Linked DNA regions of Homo sapiens: region 1 is linked to region 2. The links come from fine-mapping of genetic effects on gene expression. Tissue or cell type: aorta. Region 2 holds a variant in brackets; the other region holds the start of a gene. All regions are shown on one strand. Distances are between the middles of the regions.

Region 1 (2,911 bases), 28 kb after region 2:
ACAACCAACAAAAACAAAAGCCAAAATCACTTTTCTTTAGGAATGAGGTCAGCACTCTTTTGCACACTCGTTTGTGGGGAGTTAAATATTTGGTGAAGAAAAGGCAGCCTGCCCGCAGGCAAAGCTAGAGATTTCGGCCAGTGGGCATATCTTTCCAAACCCTTGCTACTCCTCTCGATTATTTTCTGCGACATAACACCACTCCACCCCTTGCTGCCTTTCTCTAACTACTTTCTGAAGGCCGTGCCTTTGGGGAAGTGGTTACAAATAAATGGTGTTTGCGCCAAAAGCTAGAGGTTCCTCCAGCTACACGGCAAACCGAAGGAAGCAGTCAGGACATTGAGAGGCACTACACAATGACAACAAACATTGCCAGCGACTGCTGAGCCCCTCCCCCGCGCCAGCCTCAGCCCAGAGAATGCAGGCCCGGGGCTGGCTCGCCGCGGGCCAAACACGGACGCAGCTTGCGCCGGGGGCATCCCGAGCAGAGGCATCCCTCGGTGCCAGGCAGCCGCGGGCCCTCTCCGGGCATCTCCCACCCGGAGTGCTGGGCCAGTGCCCAATAGGAAGCCCCGCGGGGGAACTTTCGCCACTCTTCTGCCACATAAACAAGTCGGGCTCAAGACCGTCCAATGACTGGGCAGGGCGGCGAAACACACTTGGAAGTCCTGGCAGCTTCCCGGACTCGACTGAGTTTAACACTCTAGGAGGAGAGGAACCCAGGGCGGATGCTTCACTCGCCCCCCTTGGCCAGCCCCTTTACCCAGGGCCGAGGATGTTACAAATACGGGCAAATTCTCGCTCCGGCAATCTTTTCCCCGCTGCCTTCCCCTCCTCATCTGCAGCCTGGAAGCAAGTTCAGCAAAAGGCTGAGGCGAAAGTGTTTCCGCGCCCCCGATCGCGCAGGCTCGGTCCACAGGGGCGACTTTCCGGGGCGCGTGGGCTGCAGCGGCCCGACTGCGCGGCGCTCCGGCATCGCGCCCGGGCTCAAGTTTCTGGGTCTTGGAGGCCCCTCCAGTGCGTCCTAGCCAGTCGCCGCAAAGAGTTAACCAAGTGGGGCCGGCCCCGCTCCGCCGCCCCCAGCAGCGCGTCTCCACCGCGCACCCCCGGCCCCGCGCTCGCGGCGATCCTCCTGAACCGCAGCTCTGTCCCGCCCCAGAGCCAGCCAGCCTCCCTCCCGCCCAGCCGACTTGGCTTCCCGCGCGCTCCTCACCGCACTCCTCCGGGCCCCGCGATCCTCCAGCACTTCCTCAGCTGGAAGGGGCTTCACGGAGGACCCTCTGCCCCCGCCGTTCTCCCCGCTTTCCTCCCCGCACCCCCCCAGGAGGTGCCAGTACCGATGCCCTGGATGAAGACGAAGCCGGTGACCATGAGCACTGGGTGCCAGTTAAACTCTAGTGCGCTCCCATCCCAGCCAAGCCCCTCTCGGTAGTGGAGGACCCAGACGAGGGCGAAGATCACCGACAGGAAGCCGACGAGCAGTGCCGACCCCAGCAGCGCCAGGAAGCGCCAGTAGCCCTCCATGGCCATCAGCGCCCCATACTCCGCACCGCGGGGGCCACAAGAACTTGGAGAGGCGGCGGCAGCCCTCTGGGTAGTGGCCGGGCGGCGGGACCGGGGCGTCGACTTCTTGGGGCTGTCTCCGCCTGCGGGGAGGGACTTTCTGGGCTGCTGGCCCGGAATGTGGGGCCTCTTGGGGGTGGGGAGCTGGCCCCAACTCAGAAATGGGCCCCACCCCCGGGATCACGCGGCCGCCGAGGGCGCTCATTGCCTGGTGGCCTCACCCTCTCCCTCGTCCAGCATCCAAGCTCGCAGAGGGCTTCAGTAACAGACCTAGTTAGTTGCTCAAAGAGAAAATTCCGAGGATTTTATACTCACCACTTGCTTTTAACACTTCCCGTGTCTCGTCCTTATTTGTGGGGAGGTTGAGTAGGGCAGTGGTGCGCCCTCTTGGTTAAGAGAAGAGAGGGATCCGTTGGGTAGGGTTATGTGTGTGCTTTTAACTACTAACGAAGCCTCCTTAGCCACAGTGCTGGAGAATTGGCTGTCTCTGACATCAAAGGGTGTTAAGGAGGAACCTGTAAGGTGGTGTAAACTAAAAATAAAATCCTAAGCCCCTCACTGACTGAATGGACCTCCTTGGCCAAGCAGACCCCAGAAAAACCTTAAAGCTGAGTTTCTAGCTACAGCCGGAAGGGAAGTCTACCCCCTCCATTTTGGAATTTAGACTCAACAGCTGACTAGCATTAATGTTTAAAATAGAAATCATAAGGCGGACAGAACAGACTCTTTGTAGCAATAAGACATCAAATTATAAAAAGGACCTAAGTCACACACTCCTACACTTAAGAAATAAACTATGGTCTAACTGCCACAAAGGTTTTCTTTTCCTCTAGAGGCTAAACAAGCACTGGCTTGAGATAAGCAATATTAAAACAATTACAACTTAATCAGTTCACAGATGCTGACCAGCTGAACCCCTGTTGCACCAGCCAGAACTACAGCTTTCACTGGGCTGATTTCAGGAACTTTTTCATGATAAGAAGACCGACCATGGACCGGTTCTGGCCAGTGTACAGGGATTGTGCACTTGTATGCATTCACGTCCTGAAAAGACCTTTTGAAGTGTAGGTTTGAAGTAATACATTTAAATGTATTTGAAGTAATACAATTAAATGTTAAGTCTCCACCCCAAAGAGAACATGTTACATGCATGTTTGTTCAATATGCATGTGTAAGGACCACCTCCATTAATATTCATAGCTCCTCCTGTAACCTGTTACGTATGTATGTTTGGCCAAACTGTTCAGCATAAAGCTCCTACCCCAACCCCTCTGCCTTCCAAGTGCCTGTCTCTGGTCTTAGGCCAGAGGCTATGTTTATCAGCCTATGGAATGGCCTCCTTGCAGGC
Region 2 (2,911 bases):
AAAACAATTATGAAAAGAGAGGAGAGTGGGGAGAAAGCACTAACATCACTGTTCAGCTTTCTTGATTGAGATCCAAGGGCTAATGGGGAGACAGAAGAAGGGAGGCAGGGGGAGGGGTCCAACGCCCTAATTCACACTGAGAATCAGCTCATGTGTAATACCAAGTAGTAATAAATGGAAACTGATAACAAAACAATTTGTATGATTTGTCACTTTAACAGACTGCAGAGGAAAAATCATATAATCATCAAAACAGATGGTGAAAAACATTGGTAGGATTCAACAGTCATGTATGAGATGTTTTAACAAACTAGGAATGGAAGATGATTATTTTAATCTGATTATATTAGGACAGAACATGCTATAGGAACTAACAGGCTCCATTTTCAAGAGCTTAACATATAAAAGTATATTTCTTGCTCACACACAGTCTGCTTATGGTCTATAGGCATTTCAGAGTAGCTCTCTTCCAAGACATGACTCAGATCTAGAAGGGATTTGTCTTATATCCCTTATCACCTATTCCTATTCAGCATTTTTCTGAAAGTCTCAGCTACTGAGTTAAGCAAGAAAAAAAAATGATGATAGAAAAAGAAACAAAACTTATTAATCACATAAGATTATAAAACACAATCCAAAAGAATCTTGAGATTAATTACTAACATAAGTTTATCAAGTTTGCTAGGTATAAATTTATACTTGAGATCAGTTGCACTTTTTGTAAAGAGGCAACAAGTGAATTAATTTTTAATGATACCATTTTTAATAGCAAGGAGCTAGCAATAAGTTGGAGACAACAACTCTACAAAGAAAATATAAAGCTTTGCAATATTTTGGAGAAGGCTAAAAAAACAGGCTCAGGATAATGAGTTGGAAGACTTGTATTATACAGATGTCGGTTCTCAAATTCATCTATAGATTAAATAAAATCCTAATAGATTTTTGGTGGAATTTGATGCATTGATTCTAAAATTTACATAGATCAAAGGGCCAAGAATAGCCAAGATTAACTGTTGTTTTCTGAAGTATATCCTAATACAATAAATTCTGTAATTTATATTTAAAAAGTAATAACAAATGCATTTGATAGGTTGGTTTGCATATTTTATTATTTAGTTAATAACCAAAATGCCTGAATATATTAGAAATGGTTCAGAGGGTTCCCTCTTGGTGGTTCAGAATATTCCTAAATCTTCTTCAGTGAACTTCAGTGATTCTATTAGTATCAAAGGGCAAGCTTCCTGATGTCCATGTTGTGCTTTCTATATGAAAATGGGGGCTGAGTGTGGTGCCTCACGCCTGTAATCCCAGCACTTTGGGAGGCCAAGGTGGGAAGATCACTTGAGTCCAGGAGTTCAAGACAAGCCCGGGCAACATGGCGAAACCCCATCTCTACAAAAAATTAGCTGGGCATGGTGGTGCACGTCTGTGGTCCCAGCTACTGTGGATGCTGAGGCAGGAGGATTGCTTGAGTCCTGGAGATGGAGGTTGCAGTGAGCTGAGATTGTGCCATTGCACTCCAGCCTGGGTGACAGAGTGAGACCCTGTCTAAGAAAGAAAAAAGAAAAGAAAGGAAAAGAAAATGGGGCTCAGGGATATAGCACAAATATATCTCCATAAATCATCATATCTTTTCTGTGGCTTACCCATAGAAACATAT[ATT/T]TCTCATTCCTGCTCTCCTATTTTCATTCCTAAGATTCTTTCTGTTTTCTCTCATTTCCTCCATAATTTGTCATGTGTGTCTCTTACAATCCTGTAGGGCTCAACAGTCTAAGCAGGTAGGAGGTCAGAAATTTGCTTACAGGATCCCTGAGCAACTTAACTACCCTAAATCTGACTTTCACCATTAAACATTTTTTGCAACAAAAGAAAATTACATTTAAAAGGAAAAGAAAAACATTACAGAATGCTTAACTTTGATTAAAAGTGTTCTGAATGCTGCAATAATGCATATTTATAATTTATAATAACTTATAATTTATAAATAATCATTATTTCCTTTTAACTATCTTAATCTTACTACCTTACAAGTGAAGGTGATAATTTATAACCTAGTGGACCGAAAATTATAAGACCTTTTGTCTCTCTAAGTCAGTACTGGAAGTGCTGTTCACAGAAGGCATGCATTTAAAGGGATGCCTGCTGTAATCCCAGCACTTTGGGAGGCCGAGGCAGGAGGATCACTTGAGATCAGGATTTTAAGACCAGCCTGGCCAACATGTCAAAACCCCATCTCTACTAAAAATACAAAAACTAGCCAGGCATGGTGGCACATGCCTGTAGTCCCAGCTACTCTGGAGGCTGAAGCAAGAGAATTGCTTGAACCCGGATGGCGGAGGTTGCAGTGAGCTGACATTGTGCACTTCAGCCTGGGTGACAGAGCAAAGCTCTGTCTCAAGAACAAAAACAACAACAACAAAAAAATAAAAAATAAAAAGATGCCTGGGCCACATTCTGACCTGCTAAATCCAATTTCTGGATTAGGGCCCAGGAATCTGTATTTTTAACAAACTGCCCAGACGATTCTTACGTATGTTGAAGTTTGAAAATGACTGCTGTTGATTCACTCAAATTATTCTAGAGATATGGATAAACAGTCTGGAAAACCCTCAAAAGAGAAGGTAGTGGAATATTCCATTATATATAGTCTACAAACACACTAAATGCCAACTATATGCAAACAAAGTGCCCCAGTGTTTAGGAATCATCACCTACAGGAAGCTGTTCTTCAACACAGTGGAAGTTCTTAAGAGCTAAGGAAAAATAAACTTTCATAAAAAGTTATTACTTAGAGATGAAAGTGAAAATACAGTATGACCCAATTATGTTTAAAAATTAAATATCTATATCTACATTTGCATAGGCATAATAAAAGCCTAAAGGGAATAAGCCAAAAGCTAATGATATCTCT

Evidence for each region. PIP is the estimated chance that this variant, and not a neighbour inherited with it, causes the effect.
Region 1: CYBRD1 starts here. The variant in region 2 is fine-mapped to the expression of CYBRD1 in aorta (GTEx, PIP above 0.99). The same link has a PIP of 0.9 or more in fibroblasts.

The regions. Positions count from the first base shown.
Region 1 is chr2:171,521,165-171,524,075 of GRCh38, reverse strand. It overlaps CYBRD1 (cytochrome b reductase 1), which reads right to left and starts at 1,602. Exons shown (of 4, transcript NM_024843.4): 1 at 1,338-1,602. The coding sequence starts at 1,530. RefSeq lists silencers at 964-1,033, 1,184-1,293 and an enhancer at 1,404-1,513.
Region 2 is chr2:171,549,615-171,552,525 of GRCh38, reverse strand. All of the region lies in intron 2 of CYBRD1 (cytochrome b reductase 1), which reads right to left. Among named protein-coding and RNA genes, the nearest start is that of CYBRD1, 29 kb to the right of the region's middle. The variant ATT/T (reference allele first, on the strand shown) is at 1,661.